Linked DNA regions of Homo sapiens. The protein of the gene in region 2 purifies or fractionates together with the protein of the main gene of each other region. This does not show direct contact. Each region holds a gene or a part of one and is shown on either strand. Other genes may lie near its edges. The genes, in order: PIGR, ITPRID2, FKBP15 and VPS33B.

Evidence for each region.
Region 1: the proteins of ITPRID2 (region 2) and PIGR purify together in Homo sapiens (affinity purification with mass spectrometry; 3 studies listed by BioGRID and IntAct, with this or other methods). This does not show direct contact.
Region 3: the proteins of ITPRID2 (region 2) and FKBP15 purify together in Homo sapiens (affinity purification with mass spectrometry; 3 studies listed by BioGRID and IntAct, with this or other methods). This does not show direct contact.
Region 4: the proteins of ITPRID2 (region 2) and VPS33B purify together in Homo sapiens (affinity purification with mass spectrometry; 3 studies listed by BioGRID and IntAct, with this or other methods). This does not show direct contact.

What each region holds. Positions count from the first base shown.
Region 1 is NC_000001.11:206,943,458-206,950,756, reverse strand, and holds the start of PIGR (polymeric immunoglobulin receptor precursor), read left to right. Parts: upstream 1-4,290; 5' UTR 4,291-4,421; exon of another isoform or gene 4,422-4,489; intron 4,490-7,299.
Region 2 is NC_000002.12:181,887,657-181,894,734, forward strand, and holds the start of ITPRID2 (protein ITPRID2), read left to right. Parts: upstream 1-4,073; 5' UTR 4,074-4,410; coding exon 4,411-4,621; intron 4,622-4,958; coding exon 4,959-5,004; coding exon of another isoform or gene 5,005-5,008; exon of another isoform or gene 5,009-7,042; intron 7,043-7,078.
Region 3 is NC_000009.12:113,169,271-113,176,295, forward strand, and holds part of FKBP15 (FK506-binding protein 15), read right to left. Parts: intron 5,314-7,025; coding exon 5,158-5,313; intron 4,336-5,157; coding exon 4,183-4,335; intron 2,437-4,182; coding exon 2,311-2,436; intron 1,360-2,310; coding exon 1,252-1,359; intron 673-1,251; coding exon 1-672. UniProt on the Homo sapiens protein: May be involved in the cytoskeletal organization of neuronal growth cones. Seems to be inactive as a PPIase. Involved in the transport of early endosomes at the level of transition between microfilament-based and microtubule-based movement.
Region 4 is NC_000015.10:91,005,571-91,012,595, forward strand, and holds part of VPS33B (vacuolar protein sorting-associated protein 33B), read right to left. Parts: exon of another isoform or gene 6,864-7,025; intron 5,600-6,863; exon of another isoform or gene 4,984-5,599; intron 4,277-4,983; coding exon 4,231-4,276; exon of another isoform or gene 4,221-4,230; coding exon of another isoform or gene 4,215-4,220; intron 3,407-4,214; coding exon of another isoform or gene 3,334-3,406; intron 2,395-3,333; coding exon 2,300-2,394; intron 2,004-2,299; coding exon 1,899-2,003; intron 1,477-1,898; coding exon 1,380-1,476; intron 1,160-1,379; coding exon 1,082-1,159; intron 876-1,081; coding exon 802-875; intron 490-801; coding exon 403-489; intron 215-402; coding exon 124-214; intron 1-123. UniProt on the Homo sapiens protein: May play a role in vesicle-mediated protein trafficking to lysosomal compartments and in membrane docking/fusion reactions of late endosomes/lysosomes.

The DNA.
Region 1 (7,299 bases), on a different chromosome or scaffold from region 2:
GACTACAGGGGTGTGCCACCACCCTGGCTAATTTTTTTGTTTTTGTAGAGACTGGGTCTTGCTATGTGGCCCAGGCTAGTCTCCAACTCCTGACCCCAAGTGATCCTCCCACCTTGGCCTCCCAAAGTGCTGGGACTAGAGGTGTGAACCACTGAACCTGGCCTATACTTAATCTTTATAACATACCTATACAGTAAGTATAATTTTCCCCAGAGACATTAAATAATTTGTTCAAGGTTCCCTGGCTGGCAGGTGGTAAGGCTTGGATGTGAACCCAGGGCGTCGAGGTCCAGAGCCCCTGCTCTTTTCCCAAGGCTACACAGGCTCTCTATGCTTGCTACCTCCTGGCTTGTGTTGTTCCTTGACAGTATTGCATGTGAGTGATGACTTCTCAATTGGACTACTTGCCCTTGTGGAACAGGGGTGCACTCTCCTGCATGTCTCAAATCTCCCTGGACCTTGAGCTTGTCATGGTTGGTAGGCCGAGAAATAACCACCATCCCTCTTCCCCAAGGTTTGTCTATGTCTCAATCTCTGGAGCCCAGAAGTGTGACCTTATTTGGAAAAGAGTCTTTGTAGATGTGATGAAGTTCAGGATCTTGAGATGAGGACATCATCTTGGATTAGCTGGGTGGGCCCTAAATACCATCCATATAACAGAGAAACAGAGAGTTATTTGAGACATACACAGAAGCCAATGTGACTATGAAGGCAGAGGTTGGAGTGACACAGCTACGTGCCAAAGAACACCAAAGAATGTCAGCAGCAACCAGAAGCTAGAAGAGGCAAGCAACGGATTATCGTCTAGAGCCTGGAGGGTGGCCCTGCTGGCACCTTGATTTCAGGCTTCTGGTCTCCAGAACAGAAAGAGCATACATTTCTGTTTTCTTAAGCCACTAAAGTTGTGTTAATTTGTTATAGCAGCTGTCAGAAACTAATACGGTGCTCAACCAAAACACAGAATCCTAGAACTGAAAGAGCCTTGGGAACAATTTGGCACTGTCCTCTGATGGAACAAACAATCCTGCAGACCTACAGGATGAAGTGATCTGGCAAAGGTCACTCGGCAATTAGAGGCAGAATCAGGAACAAAACAAAGGTGTTCCACAGTGACTTATGCTGAGTCCCAGAGTCAGGAAAGTCCAGTGAGAAGCTGTTCTTCTGCTGGTATATTTTCTTGTATGATTACTTTAAAAGAAGCAGGGAGGGTTGAGCAGATGAAGTGTTGTAAGTTTGGAAAGTATAATCACTGCTGTTATCATCATTATTATTGATTTGGGCAATGGACTCTCTTGGCCTGTCCCTCCTCCCCCAGGGCTGAGAAATAGTACTATTTTAGGGCCACTGGGTTCCAGATGGGGAAACCACAGTGCGAGAGGGGAAGCAAGTGAGTCCAATCACACCACCGGCGTGTGGCTGAGCCCAGAATAGGACGTAGGATTTTTGACTCCCTGCCTCTTCCCAGGGCTCTACTTCTCATTTTCCCCTTTCTGTAAACTGGATCAGTAGGATCAGTGGGCTCCAGGTATGTGGGGTGTGTGTGTGTGTATGTGTATGTGTGTGTGTCTGACATGGGTCAGCTAAGACAGTTTTGGAGACTATTGAAAACATGCAGCAGGACATGATCTAGTAAATTACCCACCATCATGAAATAGCAAAGCAGGGAAGGAAATCTGCAACCTGTCCTCCACGCCCACCAAGGCAGCATGAGAAGAAATGATTTAATGAGTGTTCTCCCCTTCCTCCCTGCAAGCCTTTGCTCGTCAAATTTCTGCACTAGTGTTCTGTGAACCTGCCTTGACTTCTACTCCAGCCTGGACAACTGGACACAACTTATTTCTTGCTTTGGGAAGGAAGAAACAAACCCTACAAATATTTTGACTATTGAGTTCAAATGGAGAGAGGTATAAATCGGGAATCCTTTGAAAGGAGCTATAATCTGACAGAACCAGGCTTGTCTCATCTCTGCACCTGCATATCTTGTCTCCCCTCGCATCCTCCTGCTAGACATTAACCCCAGAACTGGGGAGGAGAAAGACTGCTGAAGAGTAAAAAGGAGAGCTTAGTTACTGATGTGTCTTGGTGCCCTCCCACCCACCACCATGGGGCAGAGTCCAGGCTACAGTAGGGGAGAGGGGATTAACAATGATAGAGATATCCAGGTGGGCTTGAAAACTCCAGATTGAGGGGCCCTCACCTTCGCCCATCCTGTAGAGAACTTTGGTGGTCCACAGTCTTGCTGATATCCATTGTACCCCCAATTATATGGGAACACTGGCACACAGGAGGTTACAAGAGTGTTGGGGGAAAATGTGACTCTGCTGCACAGGATCTCCCAAAGGCCTCAGGAGTCTGTGATCAGCCAAACTCACCCTGCACCCACAAGGTGGGCAAGGAGAGGCTGAGGGCCTGGAAGACCCACCCCAGGGAGCTCAGTGTATGGACTAGGAGGGCACAGTGTGGACCACAGAACCCTCAGGATGAGCAGGGACAAAGCCCACTGACCAAGCAGGGGAAGTCACATCTCAGTAGACAAAACTATTTCCTTCTGGAGCCCAAGGCCAGCACAGCATCGTGACAAAGCAAGACCAAAATAATAATGGGCCACCCCTTTTCACTGCCTCAGCAGTAACATTGACCACCCCCTCACCCAAGACCGCTCTCTCCAGACTGGACCCCAGGGGAGAGAAGGGAGACAAAAAGGAAGGGAACTCCATAATGAGGCTAAATTTTAAATCTGGAGTGAAGTGACTGAGAGATCACTGAATTGGGCTGAGCTTGCCTAGAAGTGACTAGGTAACTTGTTTTCTTTTATCAGTCAGATTATGGGTTTAGGGTTTGAAATTAAGCTACATCTGGAAGCCATCATCCTCATCAAACTAACACAGGAACAGAAAACCAAACACCACATGTTCTCACTCATAAATGGGAGCTGAACAATGAGAACACACGGACACAGGGAGGGGAACATTACACATCCGGGCCTGTTGGGGGGGGTGGGGGGAGGGAGAGCATTAGAACTAATAGCTAATGCATGTGGGGCTTAATACCTAGGTGGTGGGTTGACGGGTGCAGGAAACCATCATGGCACACGTTTACCTGTGTCACAAACCTGCACGTTCTGCACATGTAATCCTGGAACCTAAAACAAAATAAAAAAAGAAAATCTAAGTTTGCAAACCACAAAAAAAGAGAGAAATTAAGCTACATAAAGAAATTATGGGGTTTTTTTGCTTGCCATTGAAATCTGTGATTGTGTGTTAACACCCACAAGTGAGCCAGTGGTTAGCTAAAATAAGACCCAGGGCTCTGGCTGCCTTGTGTTTCTCCAGGGCTCTATTTCTCTATTTTTCCTTCCCCTTCTGGTGTTTGGCCTATAGGACTCTGTAGGGAGAGCCTGGGTCAGCCCTGCACAGGTAGGATGGGCAGCATTTCTGTGGGGGTTTGCAGTGAGGGGTCGGGGGGCCATACACGTGTGTGTTGGGGAGTGGGCTTCACTTTTGTCACAGGACTGCCACGATCATTTGGGGAACACCTGGGAGTCCCAACCAGGTCATGTTTTGGCATGGACTAACAGATAGGGAAGGAGGTGCTACTTCAGCTCAGCAGGTCAGCACCGTCCTTGCTATGGAGCCGAGCCCGGGTCCTAACAAGACTCTGAGGTCAGCCATGTTCAGGGGAGCCCAGAAGCAGCGAGTCTTTCATGACTCTGGGGAGTGAAACAGGAAGGGCCACAGTCCTGCCAGTTCCTGGAGCTCTGGGACTGGTAAAAGGGGCTTGGCAGGAGGTGTATAAGGGGCATTTTTGTCCAGGCTAAGTAACCTAGGGAGTCGGAGGGGATTCCAGAGCAACTGGGGATATGAGACCAAGGACTACGACAGCCACTCCTGCCACCTGTGCCCCATCAGATGATGTCAACTTCAAATCAAGCATTGGGCCAGGTATTTTAGAGCTAATACCGGGCTATATCCTCTACCTGTAGATTTGGTATTACCATCCCTCTTTTCCAGATGAAAAGAAATAGGAAGGTGACTTGCCAAAGGTCTTGCAGCTAGAAAGCGACAGAACAGCATCTTCACGCTTGACATTCTGTCCCTCATCCTGAAGCTGCAACGATGGAGGATTCCCAAGTAACAGAGTCTCCCCAAGGTCAAAGGAAACCAAATGGAGCCAGCCAGGAAGGCCAAAATGAAAGGAAAGCAAGGGATCTGTGAGAGTCACATGACCCTGGCTGGCCACGGTGCCTGTGGGAGAGTGGCCCTTTAAGAGCCCAGGTGTGGGTCAAACACTGAGCAGAGTTTCAGTTTTGGCAGCAGCGTCCAGTGCCCTGCCAGTAGCTCCTAGAGAGGCAGGGGTTACCAACTGGCCAGCAGGCTGTGTCCCTGAAGTCAGATCAACGGGAGAGAAGGAAGTGGCTAAAAGTAAGTGTTACTGCTCTGGGATCCCCAGACGGGATGCTATCTGGAAAGGGCTCGGGACGATGGCTCAGGTAACCCCCTCCATTCCCAACTCCCAGTCTCCTAGATAGTGGGGTGACAAGGACAAGGAGGCAGACTGTGTGACTGTGTGTGGCTGGGGAGTAAGCGTGCATATCGCAGTGGGACGAGTAGGGATGCACGTGTGTGGAAGCCCCCCATCCTTTTCTGAGAAATATCAGCAGGTGGGAAGGGACCTCTGTGGTCAGCATATGTAATTCTACTCTTTCAGCTTGGTCTGTGCCTGGATTTCCTAACTCCTCATAGTTGATTAACTGTGTGGCCTTAGACAAGCCACCTAACCTCTCTGATCCTCAGTTTCTTAATCTGTAAAACAAAGATAGAAATAACACCTATCATTCAGGGTCAATGTGGGTTCAAATGAGAAAACACAGGTGAAATAGCTTTGTAACCTCTAGAATGAAATAGGAATTGTTTCATATTTTTCAGTTTAGTTTAATTAATCAAGGATTTATTGAACACCAACAGACCTGGAATTAGATAGTGCGCATAAAGTATGGCACCTAGCAAGTCCTCTTCCATTCTTTGAGGTTTCCCACTTGTGGCTTTCTGGCAAAGGCATGTTCAGCTCCTTTTTTCTGGGCTTCCAAGAACCTCTGAAATCCTTTGCAATTCCACCTCGCTTTGCTCTAGCAGATTCCTGCCATGGGAGACATAAATGTGTGTCATCGCATCATCCTGCCCTTCCTAGAGGTAGAAAAAAAGAGGTCCTCACGGGATCACTGAGTGAGGTGGAGCTGAGCCCCACAGGCAGCATGATCAACTCCTGCTGTTCCTCCTGGCTCTGCAGCCAGCAGATCTCAGACATGGGCTTCCCCTCCCTTTGCCCATCCTGACAGCAGCCCAAGCCAGCAGTGGGACCGTCCGGCACAAGGGCAGCAGCGGGTCAAGCTCCATCCCTGACCCCCAGTTCCCTTTGTGCAATTGCCACAGTGCCTGGGGCCATTGAAGCTGCTCCTATTTTGTGCCATCACTTTCCCCCTTCACTAGGGGAATTATAGATCCTTTAACATCTGGAGAGGAGATGCCAATTTCAGGGGTTTAGGTAGAAGGCAGCTGTCTGGTGCCTGGACATAGGTCTTCCCAGAGCCAGATCTGGAATTCTCTCTCCATCCTTGTCCCGCCCCTGGATGTGCTAAAGTAGCAGAAAGAACACTGAGCCAGGAGTCAGGAAAGCAACTCTCTCTGCTTATCTCCTAGTGCCGCTAGACCTCTGTGGCTTTAGGTGATAAAAAATGGGGTCACACAGGCTTCCATTTAGTAAACCCACTTGCCCTGGGCTTTCACACCTTCGTCTCATTCTCCCTTGATACCAACGAGGAGGTAGGCAGGGTTGGTTTTGTGATGTCATTCCCTAGTTGAGGAAACCAAGACACCGTGAGTCTATGTGAGTGGTGTGAAGTCACCAGCAAGTTTGAACGATGAGGTTTTGGTACAGCCATTTTGATATGGTCATGAGGACATTTTGATGTCACCTAAAAAGCAAACTATCCAACTTAAAAAAAAATACCTATGCATTGTGCTCAGCAGAGACCTTCATCTATGTCTTGCCCTCTCTCTGGAGGGGCTGGGGCTGGAGTCCCAATGTCACTGGCATCGACACAGTATGGTGGAGTGGAAAGAGGCTTTGGCGTCAACATGCCTGGTTATACCCATGGTTATGTAACATATCCTACACATGGTAGGTGCTAAATAAATAGCAGCTAATATTTTCCAGGAAGAAATTTCTCTGTTGGCACCTACCTCTGGGTCCAGGTGTCTCTTCATTTTTTAATTTTTTATTTTTTTGAGATGGAATCTTGCCCTGTCACCCAGGCTGGAATGCAGTGGCGTGATCTTGGCTTACTGCAACCTCCACCTCCTGGGTTCCAGCGATTCTCCTACCTCAGCCTCCTGAGTAGCTGGGATTACAGACCCATGCCACCACACCCAGCTAACTTTTGCACTTTTAGTACAGATGGGGTTTTACCATGTTGGCCAGGCTGGTCTTGAACTCCTGACCTCATGATCCACCCACCTCAGCCTCCCAAGGTGCTGGGATTACAGGCGTGAGCCACTACGCCCGGCCCCAGGTGTCTCCTTATAAGAACTGCCTTTTCCGTGAAAGGCAGAGAGGAAAGAACTGAACAAATTCTCAGTTCGCTAAGATTGAATATCCTGCTTCTTCCTCTCTCCACTGCTTCCTCTCAATAGGAAGACCCTCTGAGGTAAAGCAGAGTGGCTAAGGGCCTATGCTCTTGATCTAGAATCCCATCTAAGTCACTTACCAACTGTGCAACCTTGGGCAAATGTCTCACCTCTCTGTGCCTCAATTATCTCACTCATGAAATGGGGTTGCCCATTTTGTCCCATCTCCTATGGTGGCTGTAAAAATGGAACACATTAACACATGTAAAGCACCTGGAAAGGACTCAGCGTACGTTCTTCTAGCCTAGCCCATAGTGCTTGTCTCCTCTCTTATCCACATGAGTCCAACCTAAGTAGCTCACTCTCCATCTCTCTATCTTCAAAGGATGTCCAGCAAGCAGACTTCTACTCTCATACCAAGTCCAGGGGACCTTTCTTCCTCTGAAAAAGAGGGAAACCTGAGATTAGATGGACAAAGGTTTGGACTCCACACCATGAGAGATGAAGTGCAGTCACTTTAACTGAACAGGAGCTAGTTAAATACATTTTATAAAAAGAAAAACTATCCTTCAGCACAGCTTACACTCCTGCCCCAATCCACAATTGTGGGGACATATGTTACACATATGTTGGGATACTAACTTAGTAAACTGAAAATGATCTAGCACATCCTAGC
Region 2 (7,078 bases):
GGTTTATAGGCTTTAAACATGTAATTCTATTGCTTTAACATATATACAATAACCAGAAATACTAAAATCAGAAATACTTTAATAATTAATAATGGTCTCAAAAATAGAGGAATATATCAATAACCCAATCTAAGTCAGACTAACCAGCATTCCTCATAGTTCAATTACATGATTTGTAAATAAATCTCTGAAAATTTTTGAAGTGTTTACTCTTATTTATTAATATTTTTTCTTTTATTCTCTTTTATGCTATTGCAAATTATTTCACTGGTATCCCTGGAAATGTTAATGGATACATTGAGGGGCCAAAAAGATTTACTGTTGAAATAAATTTTATAACTATTGGGTTTAAAAAATTAAAGTTTTAAAAAACAAGTTTTGAAGACGTCTCAAGTCTTTAACATTCATTGTGACTGGGCTGGGGTGGAGGAAGAGGAGGGGGTATAATATGCAGTGTTTTCCATTCTTATTTTATATAGAATTTTTTTCTCCAGGCAATACTATCAAAATATAAAATGCTACTTTGTTCATTTAACCTGATATTCTACTTAACCTTATACCTCTGAGGCCCCTTTTGTCTTAACAAAAGATGAGAATTTGAAGAAATAACTGCAACTCTACCACTCTCTAATCAGATTCTAAATAATTAAGATTTTGATGCACAAAATACAATTTTTGAGCATATAAATATTATTAAAGAAACAATACCATAACTACAACCAAAATGGCTTAGCCTACCCAATAGTAAATCTTGTTTTGCAATTTTAAATATCTAATTAAACCAAGAACAATGTTTCCCTTATGATTCATGCTTTCCCATATAAAACTGCCTGATTTAACCAAAGTATACGTTTTCTATCTTTGCCTGAACTTATGCCAATTTTAAAATACAGCTGCATAAGCATGATGATAGATGCCATTTGCTAATATGAGAATTATTCCCCCATATGAAATTGATTTATTTTTTGCTTTCTGCAATATAATCATTCTAATAGCTATACTGAGCACCTACATTATTTCTTGTGAGATTCACATCAATTTGGGAAGGTAGTTATCATGATTGCTATTTCAAAGATGAGAAAAGTCATGGCCTTGGGATATTAGCTGTCTTGCCTTATACCATACAGCTAGAAAAAGAGGGAAACATTTCAAACTTCAGTCTAACACCAAAGACCACGTTGCTTCCACTATGTCATGCTGGATGGAATTATCCACATTTAATATACATTTCTTTCTTTTTCCACCTTGCAAACATCATTGATTCAGACAATACTCTTTTTTTTTTTTTTTTTTGAGACAGCGTTTCACTCTTTTTGCCCAGGCTGGAGTGCAATGGCACAATCTCAGCTCACCGCAACCTCTGCCTCCTGGGTTCAAGCTATTCTCCTGCCTTAGCCTCCCAAGTTGGTGGAATTACAGGCATTCGCCACCATGCATGGCTAATTTTGTATTTTTAGTAGAGACAGGGTTTCTCCATGTTGGTCAGGCTGGTCTCAAACTCCTGACCTCAGGTGATCTGCCCCGCCTCAGCCTCCCAAAGTGCTGGGATTACAGGTGTGAGCCACCATGCCTGGCCCAGACAATACTCTTTATGTAGAGCTTCGCAATGTATATTTGCAGTTGGTGTACAAGATAGTACTTGTTTGGGAGAAAATCCTCGAAGAAGCAAACATGCAGACTTTCTTCATGTGTAGTATTCATTATCGAATAAATGAAATACCTTGGGCATTTTAAAACATCTGTAAAAGTTGAGAATACAATGAAAAAACCTTACTTTTCAAGGCAATAGCATACTACTTCAAGGATTTCCTTCTCTATTACTTCTATACCCTCAACATATTTCATTAAAAAATGCCATGTAGAAGAAAGCACACATTTGTGCTACCGGAAACTGAATAATGTATATATTCTACTTTGTTACCTGCTGGTAATTTTTCCCCCTTATTACTTGACTCTGGTTGTTTGATTTTTTTTTAAACTATGGTTAATTATTGCCTTTCACAAGAATTCTTTGTTGTTGTCATCTGAAAGTGTATTTAAACAACTGCAAACCTAAATAAAATATAAGCATTATAGAAATAACATGAAGCAAATTTTAAAATAATCAATTTAGGTGTCTCTTTGAAGAACACAGAAAACAGAAACTACCTCAAGAAGACCCATTATCCCTTGTGGGATCAGCATTTAAAAGTGTAAGGGGTGCAAGAATACTGAAGAATGTTCTATCATCTCTCACAATTTACAATCTGGCTAGTAAGCCAAACATACCTTCCAGGGCCAGTCATATTATTTACTCTACAATCCAGTCCCCAAATAAATGACATAGACATGCTGTTGTATATCAGATCCCTGTGGGAGGGGTGTGATCAGGAGTGGTGGAATGGTGGAGTCAAAAAGTTCTGGCTTAGCTAGATTTTGAAAGTCATGAAGGTAGTGGACAGAAAGAACAGGAATGAATTAATTAGCAAAGACAGAGTAGGCAACAGCACTTAGATATGATAGAATTGAAGCTGGGAGCAGCAGAGGAACAGGGTGGATACGTAAGAACCCTGGATAAAACTTTGAAGGCAGCATATTTTGTGGCACTTGACCAGCCCTTTCAATGCTTCTTCTTAGGTACCTTCTTTATTCATTCTCTTTTTCATCTTCCACACAGGCAGCGAGACTCTGACCTATTTTGGAGAGCCATTAAACTGTTAGCTGCATCCTACTACAGGACCCTTGAAGGCTGAGAAAGTCTTATAGGTTCAAAGAAAAGATTTTCTAGTAGTGAAATTTCAAGCCATAGAGATATTAATATCACTGTTCTAACTCCCCTGACATTTGGCAGTACATAGATGAGACTCAGGAGAATATTATGATGGTTCTGGAAAGCTAGTCTGGATTTTGGATTTGATCTTGGGGATATTAGTAAACCATTAGAAGATGTCTTGGAATTGTAAATCTAGAGCAATGCGCTAGAAAGGAGATAGGAAAGAATGAAGGCAGGAAAATCAGTGTGCTATTTTAGTAGTCTATGACTTATGTGTAAATGCCTGGACAAAAACTAGGCACTATTTCATCTCCAGAGCATTCTTCATTCCAAATTCTCCAAAAGTTATGGTTTCCTGTAGCTATCAATGACAATGCACTTAATTACCTTGTAATTCGAATGCTTCCATTAGGAATTTTACTATGCTCTGGATTTTAATTTCAAATGAAAAATAATTCCTTCCTTAAAATATTTTGTCTACGCAAAATATTCTTTTCAATCACGTTAAGATTTTAAAAAGTGTTCTAACTTGTTCTTCAGAGCATAGCCAAGTACAATAAAATATTGGAAGCCTTACTTATATGTATAGTTCAGATGTAACATTTAGGGGAACAATGCTGCTTGATAGGTCTGTCACATTGTGTCTGGTTTTGGATAGAATTTGAGTATTTTTGCTAATGAGAATTTAAACATAACAAAACGGAATGCCAAAGCTGGCTTTAAAAAGTTTTGAACCCTGACATCATTTGTTTCTTGTATCATGCTGTCTCACCAAAATCCAAGCAACTATCTCCACATTGTCCCAATTGTTTCCTCTATTCTCCCTCACCAAAGTCCAACTTCAATGTGAAATTTCCAGATTAAATATCCTTTCACAATTCATTTTCATTCATAACATAAACACGATAAATAACTTTAAGTATGAAAGTAGCACTCCAGGAAGCTTAGTCTTTTGCAGTTTTTACATTTTGGCAACACCAATCAAGCACCTCTTTCCGTCCTTACCCCAATTCCTTGGACACTAAAGAGTCTATATTCAGGCGACTCTTTCAAGTGTATGTTTCAGGGTGCCCAAGCAGACACTTGTTTTCTCGCGGGGGATGTTTTGTGAGACTTGGCCTCCCCACTTACGTTCTATTTTTAGGTGAGGGAGGAGGAGGAGGAGAGGAGGAAAGATTATTAACAAACTAATCTTGCCCATTCCGCGGGCAGTAGTCGGGGGCTGGCCTGCTCCGCGTCGCGCCGGGCGCGCCCCGCCCTACCGCGCCCCGCGCGGCCCCGGCCGGAAGGGGGCGTGGGCCGCCGCCGAGGGAAGGCGCGCAGACGCGCAGCGGCCGGCCTGCTCCGGGCGCGTCAGGCAGGGGGTGGGGAGCAGGGGCCGGGCGGGCGCTCGGCTCCCAGCCGCGCTCCCTCGGGCCACTAGCGCTCCCGCGCGCGCCCGGCCGCCTTCATGTGAAGCGCCGGCCCTCCGCCCCTTCCCTCCCCTTCCTTCCCTCCCTCCCTCCCTGTCCCCTCCTCCTCCTCCTCCTCCTCCGGCGCCCGCTTCAGCTCCCCGGGGCCCCCTGCCCGGCCGGGCGCTGACAGCAAGGGCGGGGGTCCCTGCCGCCGCCTTGTCTCGCGCAGGGTCCGGCTGGGGTAGCGGAGCCCCCAGTGCGGCCATGGACCGGCCCCTGTCGTCGTCGGCGGAGGCGGAGGAGGAACTGGAGTGGCAAGTGGCGAGTCGCAGGAGGAAGGCCTGGGCCAAGTGCCGCAGCTCCTGGCAAGCGTCGGAGACGGAGGATCTGTCCACAGAAGCGACGACGCAGGACGAGGAGGAGGACGAGGAGGAGGACCTCCCCGGCGCGCAGCTGCCGGCAGCGGGGGGAAGAGGTCGGTGCTCCCGGCCGGGCTCCGGGGGGAGGCTGGTGGGCTGGGGAGAGTCTCGTGCGCCCTGGGCGCCTGCCACGAGTTCTGGGAGAGCCTCGGGCACGGTAGGCCGAGGGGAGAGGGGACACTTCCGACCTTCAAACGCGCGCGCTGAACGAGGCGCCCCCAGCGTCAACACAGACAACTGGGTGCCATCCGATTTCCCTGCCAAGGGACACTGAGACGTGTCGCTTAGGCTGCATTTGCCGTGGTAGATTTTCCTACTTGGGAGGGTCCAGGGTGACTCCGCCGTCGTAGTGCTCCTGGGTGGTAACGTGCTGTCCCCTCTCTCTACCCCCAGGAAACGTGCCCAACGAGAAGATCGCGATATGGCTCAAGGACTGCCGGTGAGTGCTCCCTGGTCCGCCCGCGTCCCGGGGGAGATCCGTGCGGACGGGACGCCGGAGCAGAGCCACTCGGGCCGCGTCCCTGTGGGTCCCGCGACCGTTGTAAGCTACAAACCGGAAAGTGAGCCGGCGGATAGCTTCCTCCTCTAAGCGATTAGAAATGGAAGTGCTGTGACCGCTGATTATTTGGTGACCGTGTTGACTTTACAGTTAGGACTTGAGCTACTCACGCATCGTGTTAGCATCAGAGATCAGAAATCCAGAACAGATAATCATGCCATATTTGTTCTGTTTTTATTTGAAAGAATTCTCACATCTCGAACAGGATATTTTGTTTTGCTTTAGTTTTGGCATCTGTACAACTGGCACGGAATCATTTTCCTTTCAAATGTGTTTTAGACGAGTTTAATTTACCTAACTACACTAAATGGGCTTTAATTTTGTTTCTGTTTGGGGAGCTATTAAAACTAGCTAACTTTGTACTTATAGTTTACTTCTTGAACATGGAATTGTCAGATGGCACTGGAATTCTCAGGGAATAGAACTTTTAAAAGCATTCAGACTGCATAAATCTGTTTAATTACATGCTTTGGCAACTGGTACAAAAATGTTTGATAAAATACAGAGGAGATGAATCATGTTGCACGTAAATCTGACTACAGCAAAATGTACTTGTTTCTTATTCCACTTTGCTAGTTGTAAAATCAGGAATGTAGCCTTTAAACTTTTGTTGGTGTTTGCTTTCGAGCATATTTTTGCTTTCTCAATTTAGATTTTCTTAATATTTTGTTCAAATATTAGAGTTAGGGTAGTTTGTTTTGTTTTGTTGTGGAAAGTGATTCATATGCCAGTTTGCCTCCTCTAAAGACAGACAAGATATTGGCTACCATGATATTAATGCCTTGTTTTGATGAATCGACTGGAACCTTATTGAACACTCTTTATTACAGAACTCGTACCCTTTATTGGAAGTGTCATAGACCCTTCTGAAATATGATGACATATATGGAATAACTTCTGTTTAAAGATGCACAGAGGCAAATACACTGCTTGAAGTCCTTGGACCCCAGATTTACAATCTAGCTGTAAATCAATCTCCCAGTTTTCAGATAAGCCTTAGATATTAGATACTTCACTCAAAGTATGGATCAAGAAATTGTATTAATGTGCTATTGGTTCATTTAATTGTTAAATACTAAAATAGTCTATAATGTAAAAGCTTGAAATTTTGAATGTACATGTTCAAGACCTTTTGGGTGAGATCTGATAAAACTAGTATCTTTCAGGTTTCCACTTAGAAATGTGTTTGAGAAGTTGTTTTGTAACTTTTACTTAAGTCCTTTAAAGCCTCCAATCTGACTCTTTATTTAAATACAGTCCTAAGTACAGTATTGGCTTACTTTAGGTTTCTTAAAATAGGCTTAGCATTACAAATACATTTATAATGTTTTATTGTTTAAATTCAAGTGCATATTCAAAAGAATTTTAAAAATTAAGAACAAGAGAAGAATCACACTATAGTTTAATGACATATAGGATTTAAGATTGTATAAGAGATCCTATCAATTAGACAGTAAATAAGTGCATCTTTTTTGAGACAAATGCAGTAGGCAAATGTTGACATTCACCAGGGCACAGTCAATCCCTGACAATTTCAGAAGTTTTGTTGCCAATACTGATTTATGTGGGCAGATTCTGTAGTCTGCTGCTCCTTCTCTCATGGATTACCTTCTTGTTCCTACAGTTGCACCTATTCTACACAAGAGTGGCATTCATTTGTATCCAGGAAAGCTAGAACAAGTAGTCTTTTAATCTTGGCTATATTATCACAGATTCGACTTAGGATATGTTGCATCTGTATTTTTGTTTTAAATAACAACTCAAGTTCCTTCTCAGAGTTGGGCATCTATGTATTTTGTTTATTATGTACAAATGACCTGAAGACAGCATTTTACCCACTTGATAAGTTCTCAAATAGTCTTTGTTTCTTAGTGCCGTCCATATCCTGAATAAAGATACCGTGTTTTCTTTCCTTAAAGGGAGTCTTTATTTTGATAACCATTTGTGGGGGGAC
Region 3 (7,025 bases), on a different chromosome or scaffold from region 2:
TGTGGAACCTGCCTCTGTGCTTGACAGCTCCTTGTGGGGACCGGTGGAGCTAGTGACATCATCTTTCTTGAGCTGTGGAGGCTGAGGCTCTCCTGGGCTTTCAGGCCCTAAGGCCAGTGGGTCCCCCTCCTCGGGGTCTGAAGTCAGGGACAGTCTTGTGGAGCTTTCTTGTAGTGGGCCATCTGGTGCTACTTCCCTGACACAGACCTTTCCTGATGGGTTGTCGGGCTTAGCTGCCATTGGGCTGGCAGCAAGTGACTCCTCACACTCAGAGTCCATGGATACAGGGCCTAGGGGCTCAGGTGGAATTGAAGTCGGGGGCCCTAGAACTCTGTGGGATGGGATGCAAGACAGTTCGGGTGGAAGGGAACCATCTTTTATCTCTGAGAGTGCCTCAGCTTCTGAGTCCCCTTTCCTTCTGTGTCCATCCTGGGAAGTGGTGAGGGCCTGAGGAGGCAACGGGACAGCTTCCTCGACCACCTGCTCTGAGGGCACCATGGGGGACTCTGGCCTCTCCCTATTCAGGGGTGCTTGAGGCTGCCCAGAACTGGCTGAGGCTGACTGCTCCTGGGAAGGTCTTCGTGGCCGCTCTTCTGCTTTTTCTTCTTCTTCTTCACTGCTGCTCTCTTCCTTCTCTTGCTCCTGTTGGTTTAACAGCTGAAGAGTCACCATCTATTCAAAAGCCAAGGAAGAGATGGTCACTGAAAGGAACACAGTAGCCACTCCTAATTCTTATTAACACTACTGGTCATGTAGTTTAAATGACTTTGCTTCTTTCCTGTTAAAAGAGGCTGACTATATCTGTCAAGTCACTCCAGGCATCCTAATTACTGAGGAACAGTCCTGAATAATTTTCTTTTTTTTTTCTTTGGAGACAGGGTCTTGCTCTGTTATCCAGGCTGGAGTGCAGTTGGGGGCAATCATGGCTCACTGTAGTCTTGAACTCCTGGGCTCAAGTGATTCTCCTGCCTCAGCCTCCCAAGTAGCTGGGACTACAGGCACGTGCCACCATACCCGGCTAATTTTTAAATTTTTAATTTTAGTAGAGACAAAGTCTCATTATGTTGCCCAAGCTGGTCTCAAGCTCCTGGCCTCAAGCAGTCCTCCCACCTTGGCCTCCCAAAATGCTGGGATTACAAGCATAAGCCACTGTGCCAGCTTTGAACAATTTTTTATTCATGATCCCTTAGAAGGTACTTAAGCAACAAAATGCCCAATACGATGAAACAAATGACAGCTGGCTGGCTGTACCTTGATCGTATTCATGATGGTTCCCAGAATGGTCCTGCCATTGTAAGATTCCTCCAGCTCAAACTCTCTCCGTAAGGACTGGAACACCTGGTTCATGATCTTCTTGACCTGTGTGAACATCAAAACACATGCTGTCAAAATCAAGTCACTAAAGGATGCATTAAATTCCAGAGAGGTGTATGGAAGGCCAAAATGAAGCCATCTTAGATCTCTACACTGGGATACTGCTGGTCATAAGCAGAGACACTGAAGGCTGTCACTGTGGAGAGGATGATATTAAATAATGAGCAGCACTTTGACAGAAGGGCTAGTCATGAGAGTTACCTATCAAGGGCAGGCAAGCTGTGGTCTGTGTGCCCAAGACTGCTTAAAGACCATTTCTTGATGTCCCCCTCCCACTGTGAGCACCACTAGGAGCTGCCATAGGCTCTAAGGGTCAGAGGCCAGTGGATGCTGGGCACACTCCCCAAGCCCCATTCTTCTTCTGTGGTTAGAGGCCCTTCCTATACCTGTCAAAACCTCAGAAAGATAGGGTTCTTTTGGGTTTGCCACTTAATATGTAAGTATGTATTTGTTTGTTTTCCCACTAGGCTGTAAGCTCCTTAAACTCAAGAACCAAATCTGGGCCGGGCATGGTGGCTCATGCCTGTAATCCCAGCACTTTGGGAGGCTGAGGCAGGCGGATCACAAGGTCAAGAGACCGAGACCATCCTGGCCAACATGGTGAAACCCTGTCTCTACTAAAAATACAAAAATTAGCTGGGTGTGGTGGCGCGTGCCTGTAGTCCCAGCTACTCAGGCGGCTGCGGCAGGAGAATCGCTTGAACCTGGGAGGCGGAGGTTGCAGTGAGCCAAGATCACATCACTGCACTCTAGCCTGGTGACAAAGTGAGACTCCGTCTCAAACAAACAAACACCAAATCTGGTTCATTTTAAAGTCATCAGACAAGTAAAACATCACTAAAGTTAGAAAAAGAGCTATTAACACAACATACTGGCCATGTTCTTTCTGAATGCTTGATATAAATGGCTTGCTTCTCATTTGAAATACCAGCTCACCTTCTCTGAGGGGTCAGATGCAGCAGCTTCAACCCCAGACATCTGGGACTTGTTCTTCTCTAGTTCCTTGATGTGCTGTTCATTTTGCTTGGTGAGAGCTGTGATTTGGGCCTGGAGGGCTAAACACTGCAAAACAAACAGACTGTGGCTGTGGCCTCAGGAACCAGGTGAAGGTCAGAAAACCCAAGGGGAGGAGAACCACCCAAACATCAAGTCTCTTTTTTTTTTTTTTGCATATAATAAAAAGACAATTTTATTTCAAATTCTTTTTTTTTATTATTATTATACTTTAAGTTCTAGGGCACATGTGCACAATGTGCAGGTTTGATGCATAGGTATACATGTGCCATGTTGGTGTGCTGCACCCATCAACTCATCATTTACATTAGGTATTTCTCCTAATGCTATCCCTCCCCCCGTCCCCCAACCCCCGACAGGCCCCGGTGTGTGATGTTCCCCGCCCTGTGTCCAAGTGTTCTCACTGATCAATTCCCACCTATGAGTGAGAACATGCAGTGTTTGGTTTTCTGTCCTTGTGATAGTTTGCTGGGAGTGATGGTTTCCAGCTTCAACCATGTCCCTGCAAAGGACATGAACTCATCCTTTTTTATGGCTGCATAGTATTCCATGGTGTATATGTGCCACATTTTCTTAATCCAGTCTATCACTGATGGACATTTGGGTTGGTTCCAAGTCTTTGCTATTGTGAATAGTGCCACAATAAACATACATGTGCATGTGTCTTTATAGTAGCATGATTTATAATCCTTTAGGTATATAACCAGTAATGGGATTGCTGGGTCAAATGGTAATTCTAGTTCTAGATCCTTAAGGAATCGCCACACTGTCTTCCACAATGGTTGAACTAATTTACACTCCCACCAACAGTGTAAAAGCGTTCCTATTTCTCCACATCCTCTCCAGAATCTCTAAACATCAAGTCTTAACCTCGCCTAGGTCTGCTGGTGTCCACTCCCTCAGCCCCCACCCACGACCCTCTGCCTCAGAGAGTTCTATCTCCTCATCATTCGACTTCAACGCAAAACTTCACTTTCTCTTTCCCAAGAAGGTTGCTTGCCTTGTTCCCAATCAGGTAAAAAATATAATGAAAAAAGAGCAGGAGGGTAGGTAATAACTAGTCATTTAGACATAAACATTCAGCATTAACAGCAACCCATTTGTCATTCATCTGCAAGATTGCCTCCAAGATCTCTGAGCCAAAAGTTTTCAACTGGACACTTTAAGGAAAGAAACTGACCTCGAATATGGACTTTCACACCATGACCCTAAGCCATGTCCCATCTCTCTTTTTCAGGCCTGATGATCCCACCACACCCCAGCCTCCATCCTATCTCAGTGCCTTTGCCCAGGATGTTCTGCCTCCTTTGCTGCCTTACCAAAGCTATTTGTCCTTCTTGGCTCTGCTCAAATGTCACCACCTTTGGGAAACCTTCCCAGCTCTCCTGGGTACTTCCTCTTCTGGGCCCCATAGCACTTAACACCTATCTTTGTTTCTTTGTCTCCCTTTCTTGACTGTGAGATACATGAGGGAAGGGTTCCTTGTATGCACTTCCTTTAACACACTGGATGGAATACAACTGACTCTCAATAAATATTTGCTTAATAAATGAAGGATCCAATAATAATGGGAAACATGTTCCGGAACACTAGTGCTGTTTTCTCTTTTTCCAGGTCACTGACCTATCACCCCACATAAGTATGTGAAAGATAACTGACAAGCTAAACAAGTGTGGTTTTGTCTTCTAGATATTAATAACTTTCAGGCTTAGAAGGATCGACAGGACTCAAACAGCCTGCTTGCCTCAAATTAACTGGGCTGCCTAAACTGTCTGACTCAAGAAAAATATGTACCTTTTCCTGAAGTTGTACCAGCTTCTGCTGGTAGGCATCTCTCTGTGCGCACACCTCCTGGTACTGCTGCAGGTGCTCATCCTTGGCGGAGGCCAACAAATGTTCACATTTTGCTTCCCACTGGGTCTGTAGCTCAGCCTGTACTAAAGACAGCTGCCAAGAGAAAGTAATGACCATATCATCCTTGGGGGTGGGGGAGTGAGATTCCATTGCACCTAGGGAAACCCATCTTTCAAAAAGCAAAAGAATAAGCTAACAGCCCAGATTTAACTGGGAAACTGTTTAAAAGACTCATTACTTTTAAAATAAATGCACTTCTTAAGATGTCATTGGTTGTCAGGACTCCAAAAGGTACTCCAAGCAGACAAAAGTGTGCCTATCTAGATAGGTCCCTGGAGGGCAGGGCCATGTGATCACTGCTTTTCAGGGTCTGAACCCTAAACTTTATAGGTTCAGAAACTTTTTTTCACCAAAATTCCCAGAGGTGGTCAAATTGAGGGCACCAATGCACTCTAATTAAACAAATGTATGCATATAAATTTTAAGCTTATAATGAGAAAGGTTGCTGTTGCACAGACTAGAGATCCAGCTGTGTCCTGCCACTATCCCTGGTTCCCTTCCTGATGACCTAAATCAATCCCTTCTTTTCAAGGATGATAATGTGCCTGAAGGATGGTGTCCAATGGTTGATGGTTTTGGCCTTACCATGTTTGGAATTTTTTTTGTAAGGAAACTATTTTTCATTTTTACTTATGTAATTAAATATTAACTAAGCTTTAAAAAAAGAAAGAAGATTCTCCATTTGATTCCTGGCTCTCCTGCACATATCTGGATTACTTTTTCTACCTTTCTCCAAAGTGAGAGTATCAGCTATGAGAAATGTCATCCTAAAGGGTAAGGAAGAAACCAGAAGCTTTTCTCTCTGAGTCCTTCACACCTTCCCTCTATTTTCAAAGTGCTTCAGTTTCCCATTACCTGCTCTGCAGCTGCTTGGTCTGTGGACACTCGAGTCTTTTTCAAGAGCTGTCGAAGTTTGTCCAATTCCTCCTGGTATGACTTGCGAATTTCATCTATCTCCTCCTCGGCCTGAGAACGCTCTTGAGCTGACTTCTTTTTCCTTTCTGAGAGGTTCTTAGGAACAAGAGAACCATCATCAGCTCTAGCTTGTTAACAGAGAATAAAGAGGGATGATGGCGGTGGCAGTTAATTACCTTGTGGAATCCTTACTCCATTTCTGAAAACTCCATTTTTTAGTTGAATTTTCCCCTAAATATTTAACATTCTTGGCTACTGGGTGAGGAAAATGGTGACAGGAGAAGGAAAACAAGAAGAGCTGTATCTACCCCTCTATTAAGAGCTAGGGAAATTGGGAGGCCGAGGCGGGCGGATCACGAGGTCAGGAGATCGAGACCATCCCGGCTAAAACGGTGAAACCCCGTCTCTACTAAAAAATACAAAAAATTAGCCGGGCGTAGTGGCGGGCGCCTGTAGTCCCAGCTACTTGGGAGGCTGAGGCAGGAGAATGGCATGAACCCGGGAGGCGGAGCTTGCAGTGAGCCGAGATCCCGCCACTGCACTCCATCCTGGGCGACAGAGCGAGACTCCGCCTCAGAAAAAAAAAAAAAAAAAAAAAAAAAAAAAAAAAAAAAGAGCTAGGGAACATCCTAACTTTAATAAAGGTACAGGAAATCAGACATTCTCATACCCTGATAGTAAGAAAACGAATGGATATACTCTCTTTGGATAGTAATCCTGTGAAAAGCCTTTAAAAACATACGTATCCAGAAATTCCACAAATTGTAATTAAGGATTCAATAAGTCATAGTCATAAAGAGTGTGTTACAAGGATGGTCACTGTAGTAGTATCTATAGTAATGACAAACTGAAAACAGCCAAGAGGTTAGAAGGAATTGGTTAAAAATAAATAAATAAAATGGAAAAAATCCTGGAAAAAAATGCAATTGCAGACCAAGATTTACCCTCTTAAAAGGCACTGGGCCAAAACAGCTTTACCTAATGAGATTTACTGAAGCCTCAGGAGCAGTTTATTATTTTCATATTTAAACGATTCCAGAACAGACAAAAAGATAGAAATGTTCTCACTTTGTTCACTTAGTATTTCCTGATATTAAAATTTTAACCAACAAAAGATACTATAAATAAAGTTAAAAGACAGCAAGCTAGAAAAATATTTACAACATCTATGACTGACAAAGGATTGATACCCTTAAAAGGGTTTACAAATCAAACTAATAATAGGAAAAAGGATAAAGGACACTAAAGAGAGAATGTACATAAGAAATACAAATAGGTATTAAATATATGAAAGCTTTACTACTAATAAAAATACACATTAAAACAAGATAACATATTTCACCTGTCAGACTAATGAAGATTAGAAAAAGTGATATATGTAGAGTGGGGAAGAATGTGACAAATGGGCTCACTCACATACTGCTGAAAGTGTAAGCACTATTCTTTGAGGATAACCTGGTAATATTTATAAAAATTCAAATATGTAGCCTTCCCTTTGATCCCATGATTCTTACTCATGCAATCCATCACGTAGGAATGCTCAAACAAATTTGCAAAAACAGTTATATAATATGAGAATGTCCATAGAAGCAGTGCTTAAAATAATGAAAAAATAAAAACATAAATATCCATCGATAGGCAAATCATTAAACAAATTATGGTACAGCCTCATAGTAGGCTACTATGCAGCAGTTAACTACGAGTGAGAAAGATCTCCTTCTTATGTAGTACAAGTCCATGACATTTTCCTAAAAAACATTAAACGTGATACCACTACTGTAAAAAAAGTTGTCAGTATACATACATGT
Region 4 (7,025 bases), on a different chromosome or scaffold from region 2:
ACACCAAGTAAGACCATATGCATCAGATGAACAGGGATCTCCTCCTCGGGAGTAATGGTCCTCTGGAGCTTTCCCCAGAGGGACACAGTCACTTCCCCTCACGCCCCTCAAGCTGAAACCTACGGAGACTCAGCAGGCGGTGCTCCTGTTTCAGGCCCTTGAGCTCCTGGGACACGAAATTCTTCATCTGCTTAATGTCCATGCCTCTCCGGCGCTGTGGGAAAATTCCCAAAGGTGAACCCCCCAACCTCAGACACGAGAAACCACCACCCTCCCTCAGTTGCCATCCATCCATGAGAAAGGACAGGGAACCTGTCATAGTATTAGAAGGGGAGCCCAAGGGCAGCAGCCTTGGGAAGCCACTGAGGCAACAAAACAGAGGAGCAGGGCTTGGAGCCTCACATCATACTGGGCCTGCAAGTTCCGGGCCTTCTGGCTCAAGAAGCCAAAGACATTGGAGAAGTGCTCGTTCCGAATCTCATTAAACACCTGTGAGGACAGTAAGACAAGAACAGCTTACTCTGTCAGAACCATAACTTAGCAGTAGAATGACAGTACAGGAAGGGTACTCAGGTGTTCTGGCAGAAATACAAAGAAAGCTGAGCTGGGATCTGTAAGTCCATATCAAATGCCTACACCGTGTTCTAGGAGATGCTCTGAACTGGTGGGGAAACCCTCTCTCCCATAGACTCAGCCTCCCCTCTCAGAGCTGGGGCCCACAGCCTGGTATAAGCAGGGGGCCCACAGCCTGGTATAAGCAGTGGCCCTAGGTGGGCCCATTGCTAGCACCCACACCCTCACCTTGTCCTCGGCATTGAGTAGCACCTTCAGGCTCTTGTCAGAGGATGTGACTTCTGGGCCAAAGTCGACACTCCCTTTGAGAGCAGAGGGACAGCTATTAGGATCTCCAATGAGGACTTCTCCTACCATTCCCTGAACTGCCATAAAGGTCCTCAAACTATTTGGAAGCCAGCAGTTCATTCAGGGTCTGGGTCTCTCCCACAAACCCTGCCCCACGTGGGAGGTGCCAAGGCTGATGACCCGTCCATCTTGCCAAGATGCAGAGGACCATAGCACTTACCACACTTGATGCGGAAGGTGTCATCTACTAGGCCCTCATAAACCACTTGGGAGCAAAGTGCTGTCACAAAGTCCACATCTGAAACAGAGATCCCTGACCATGAAGGTTCTCCCTGACCCAGCCTTCTACACAGCATGTCCAAGGGCAGCTTTGATACTTTCCATAGGGCCAAGGACCCACGCTCCTCAAAGCTGGGATTCACAGCCCTAACTTTAGGATTTTAACTTTGCCACCACGCCTTCCATATTCCCGTGTCTTCTAGGGCTGAAAGATGACAGGAACGCTGGGCATAATTTACCTCTGTCCAAGAGAAAGATATGTCCAATCTCTGGCCTTCGGCCCTTGGTTTCGCCATCCTCCTCCTCCTCCAGGTTCCTCCACAATTCATATGCCATCTGCCAGGGCCCAAGACATTCTCAGTCTTGTGTCCAGGTCCCTACTGCAGCCCCATACCTACAGAAGTCAGCCCTTTCCACGTGATACTTCCTCTTGTCCCCGAGACAGGAGCTAATTATTCACAATATGGCCCTATCTACTCCCGTCTGTGTCTATCTTTCCCCAACACTCTTCCTACTGATGAGAAGATGTGTTACTCTGTCCCCAAAATAAAAAGAGATTTAGGAATGCTACCCAGGAGATCCTGGCTTTTGCTTCTCTGTTAGCCACACAAGTTCTCCTCTCTGAGGATCTATTCCAGAACAATGAAAGCAAAGTAAAGAATACACCTCATATCACAGGTGCCCTTGGATAACCCCAGGAGGGTACAGAACAGGGAAAACAGCGTCTGCTGGGACAACAGTACTGCTAGTGCTCTTACCTTGGCGCACCTGCCAATTCCATAGCAGTTTGGAAAGGGTCCATAGAGAGTGCTGAGAAGGTGTAAGGCCTGAGCTACAGTGTTGATCCAACGCTGATCTCCTTCCTGCAGGGACCACACAAGCCACAAAGATATGAATCAACCCAGTAGGACCACCTGGAAAGTGGCTAGCCCTAGAAGCCCTGGAGCAGGGTGGCAGGGCCTGGGGGATGCTTGAAAGGTTTTCATTGGCTCCACAGGAAGTCCCACAGAGACCAATCTGTAGCACTCAATCACCACATCACTATCACTTGTGATAAATTACTTGCGTTGGACAAAGGTTATATTGGTATTTCTAGCCCTCTGCATCCCACATTTGTCCCCATCCCCTGATGCCAAGACACAAGGGCCTCTGCATTTACCAGAAAGTAATCCCTGAAAAATTCTGGTAGTTCCATGCTCAGCAGATCCACATCAAGAGGCAGCAAAGAGAAGGCCCATTCATCACAGCTCACATCTGTGGGGACAGAGAGCATCAGCCTCCCTGCAGAAGGTACTTAGCTCCACGTTAAGAGGGAAGGTCCGCCACAAATATTTGAGTGCGTGCAACAAATATATGAGTGCCTGCCACATGCCAGTACTGCATTAAGCAATGGAGGCTCAAAGAAGAATAAGACACAGTCCCTGCCCTTAAGGAGCTCACAGTCTGATAAGGAAAGGAGATGTGTCCACAGCAGCCTGTAATACAATGTGATAAGTGGTGGGTTTTTACTAGAGGGCTGACCAAAAGTGCCGAGAAAACATTCATTCATTCATTATTTATTTATTTATTTAGAGATGGAGTTTAGCAATTTTCATCCAGGCTGGAGTGCAATGGTGCAGTCTCGGCTCACTGCAACCTCCGCCTCCTGGGTTCAAGCAATTCTCCTGCCTCAGCCTCCCAAGTAGCTGGGATTACAGGTGCACGCCACCATGCCCAGCTAATTTTTGTATTTTTGGCAGAGACGGGGTTTTGCCATGTTGGCCAGGCTTGTCTCAAACTTCTGACCTCTGGTGATCTGCCTGCCTTGGCCTCTCAAAGTGCTGGGATTACAGGTGTGAGCCACCACGCCCAGCTCACTCATTCATTATTCAGCATATATTTACTGAAAGCTGCCTACATGTAGGACTGTATGAACACCAGAGATACAGCAGTGAGCAAAATGGACATGCTCCCAACCTTCTGGAGCTTACAGTCTAGTGAGGGAGACACACCAGACAAATTATGACACAAACTATTAAATCACGGTTGTGCTCCAAAGAGGTCAAACAGCAAGCTGTGAGCACATATATTAAAGGGATGTAACCACAACTGGGGGTATAGGAAAGACTTCCCTCAAGAAGAGAAAATCAAGCTTAGAATTTGGGTAAGACTCGGGAAGGCAAAAAGCTATAGGGTGGAGAACGTTCTGGGTACCTGGAAAAGCATGGGTAAAGTCTCTCTGGCTGGAGGGTGGCGAGTCAGGAGAAGGAAGCAGCACACGATGAGGCTAATGGGACAGGAGGGGCCAGACTGTGCAAGGGATAGGAGGCATGTTGGGGATTCTGGGCTTTATATTGAGCCGCTGCTATTTCCAGCAGGGAGGGCTGTGATCAGGTTTGGGTTGTGTGGAGAATAGCGGAGGAATACACAGAGGGGAGGCCCAGTTTTTCCTGTGGGAGCCTTGGAAGGTGAGAAAAGAGTGGCTGGTCATTTCCAACTCTAAGCCCTGGTGTTCCTTTCATACTACCCCAGGAGTGTTCTTTTCTTATCCTTTCTTTTCCCTCCCTCCCTCTCTCTCTTTCTCTCTTTTCTTTTATTTTCTTTCTCTCTCTCTTTCTTTCTTCCTTCCTTCCTTTCTCTGAGTCTCACTCTTGTTGCCCAGGCTGGAGTGCAATGGCGTGATCTCGGCTCACTGCAACCTCTGCCTCCCGGGTTCAAGCAATTCTTCTGCCTCAGCCTCCCGAGTAGCTGGGATTACAAGCGTGCGCCATCACGCCCAGCTAATTATTGTATTTTTAGTAGAGATGGGGTTTCACCATGTTGCCCAGGCTGGACTCAAACTCCTGACCTCAGGTGATCCACCCCCTCGGCCTCCCAAAGTGCTGGGATTACAGGCATGAGCCACTGCGCCCAGCCCCCAGTAGTGTTCTAATTCGTGGTCCTATTCCCATTCCCATTCTCAGGAACCTCTCCTCCTGCTACACTAACAGGAATAAGACCAGGAAAAGAAGGAGCTGGTGGTGGGGGTGGGGTGGGGGGGTTGGAGAACAACAACAGTTTTTTCTTCTGTATGTTCTCTTTCCCTTTCCACTCACATTCATCTCCTCTCACCTCCATAGATTCCCTCTTCCTCAAGCACCATCTCACACGCATAGAACTGAAAGAGAAAAGGAAATTGATTAGTAACTACCTTCTTCTCTGTTCTCTCCATTTCTCTGGAGTTCCTCTGTGGTCACTGATGAGGACAATAATTGCCGAACCCAGTGAAAGACAAGAGAACCCAGACTCTTAAGATCTAGAAAGAACCATTAGAATCATTCAGCCCAGCACTTCAGTTCTTTCTCATCCATTTAATTTATGTTTGAGTAAATTGCTTCTTATCTCCCTGAGAGAATGGAAGAGGTTTACAAAGGAGAAGGAGTTCAGCTGTCTTCAAAAGGTAAGTTGTACAGACAGAGATGAGAGCAATGGCATGAAGTGCTCTGGAAATTGTGGAGGAGCAGATGGGAGGAAAAGATCTGTACAAGGGAGAGTGAGTTCTGTTTAGGACATGCCCACGGGACCTTGGGAGACACAGACAAGGACTTGGGATTAAGTAGCATATATGCTGTATTTAAAGTGGATGATGTGGCTGGGTGCACTGGCTCACTCCTATAATCCCAGAACTTTGGAAGGCCGAGGCAGGTGAATCGCTTGAGCCCAGAAGTTCTAGACCAGTCTGGGCAACATAGTGACACCCCATCTCTACAAAACAATGCAAAAATTAGCTGGGCATGGTGGTGTGTGCCTGTAGTCCAGTTACTCAGGAGGCTGAGGTGGGAGGATCACTTGAGCCCAGGAGGTCAAGGCTGCACTGAGCTGAGATTGTGCCACTGCACTCCAGCCTGGGCAACAGAGTGAGGCCCTGTCTCAAATAAATAAATAAAGTAGATGGTCTGTCCAAGAGAAAAGAACACGCAGAGGAGAGCTAAGGACAGGACTCTAGGGAACACAAGATGAAAGGGGGCCAGAGTACAGGACCTGGCAGGGAAGACTGAGAAAGAATACTCAGAGAAGCAGGGGCAGGAGAAAACAGCAACAGTCAAGGCAGGAAAGGTGAGAGTTGCAAGGAAGGGTGGGCAACAGTGTCAAATGCCAGGGAAGTTAAGTAGGATTAACATTAAATAGACACCAGTGGATTTGACAACGGAGACCTGAGGGAGACTAGATGAAACGATGAAGGTGGAGATGAGGAAGCAGAAGCAGTGACAATAGAACATTCTTCACAGAAGCCTGGCCCTGAAAGAAGGGGGAGCTCTGAAAGGGAAAAGAGATGAAATGGGAGACATTGTTTAGAAGGCATAGACATGGGTGAAGGCAGAAGAGAAAGTCTACCTGGTAAAGCAAGATAATGGAGAAGGAAAGCAGAAATGGGGCCAAGAACTGGCATGGAACAGCTCATCTTAGGAGGGAAAAGGCCACGATCTCTTCCTCCTTTGAGGTAAGTGGGGAAAGGGTGAATATTTTAAAGTAATGAGAAAGAATGCTGAGGGCACTCACATCTGATAATGAGTTGACATTATTAACAGCTAATGTTGTAAGCCCTTAAAATGGTTTAGGCATTGTTCTTAGTGTTTTACAGGAATCACTTGTCTTCATCTTCATACTAGCTCTGTGAGATGTAGATCAATGCTACGTGCTCCTTATTTTACTGTTACACAGAAGAATCCTATTCCTCCCTCACTCATTTCTGCCAGGAAAACTGAAATCTTCAGGCCTGCTTTTAACTTTTAATGCTAAGTAATGGAATTCCAGAGCCAGGTCTGAAAACTGCCAATCTTCATAATTAACAAAGGAGTCTCAAAGAAGAGAGAGAGATGCCTCCTAATATAAAATTAGGTCAAAGAATTTGATTAGATAAGGTGTTAAGTGGAGAACACTCATAAAAATAACTATTTTGTTTTTCTGTGTAATAGAGAGGCTTGTAGGATTATTTTAACTTGTAGGATTATTCCCTGTTAATACAAATCTGTCCTTGGCCAGGCGCAGTGGCTCATGCCTGTAATCCTAGCACTCTGGGAGGCAGAGGTGGGCAGATTGCCTGAGCTCAGGAATTTGAGACCAGCTTGGGCAATATGGCAAAACCCCACCTCTTTTAAAAATATAAAAAATTAGCCACGCACGGTGGTGCACATCTGTAGTCCCAGCTACTCGGGAAGCTGAGGCAGGAGAATTGCTTGAACCTGGGAGGCGGAGGTTGCAGTGAGTCGAGATTGCGGCACTGCACTCCAGTCTGGGTGACAGAGCAATGCACTGTCTCCAAAAACAAAACAAAACAAAACAAAACAAAACAAGACAAGACAAAACACCAAAGCTGTCCTTGGAAGCATAATTTGAAAAGAAAAAAAAAAAAAAGGTTTGTAAGAGTCCAAGAACTAGAAATTATTGCCATGACTCCTTTAGTAACATTCAAAAGTACCTATAATTCTGAGTGGTTGTCCTACTCAATAATTTCTTGCCCTGGTAATAATACTTCACGTTTGTATTCCTAAGCATATTATCCTAAGATAAATATTTGTAAGATTGTGCTATCAATGTTCAGGTGACATTCAAAGGAAGGTCACTGGCTCTTTCCTCTTATTCCTTTTACAGAAGGAGAAAACAATATAAGCCTAGGGTCCCACTTGATTTCTTATTTCAACAGAGACTCAAAGTCATCTCACTTAAATTAAAAGATAAGTACTATTATCAACTCTATCTTCCAGATGAGAAAACCGAGACACGGAGCAGCTCAGTACCTAACCCAAGACCACACAGGTAATAAGGCCTCAAGGGTGGATTTTATCCAGACAGCCTGGTTTCAGAGGCTTCAGTCCTTAGTTACTGCCTCTATTTTCTCTAGAATTTTCTTAGAAAGATTGAAAAGG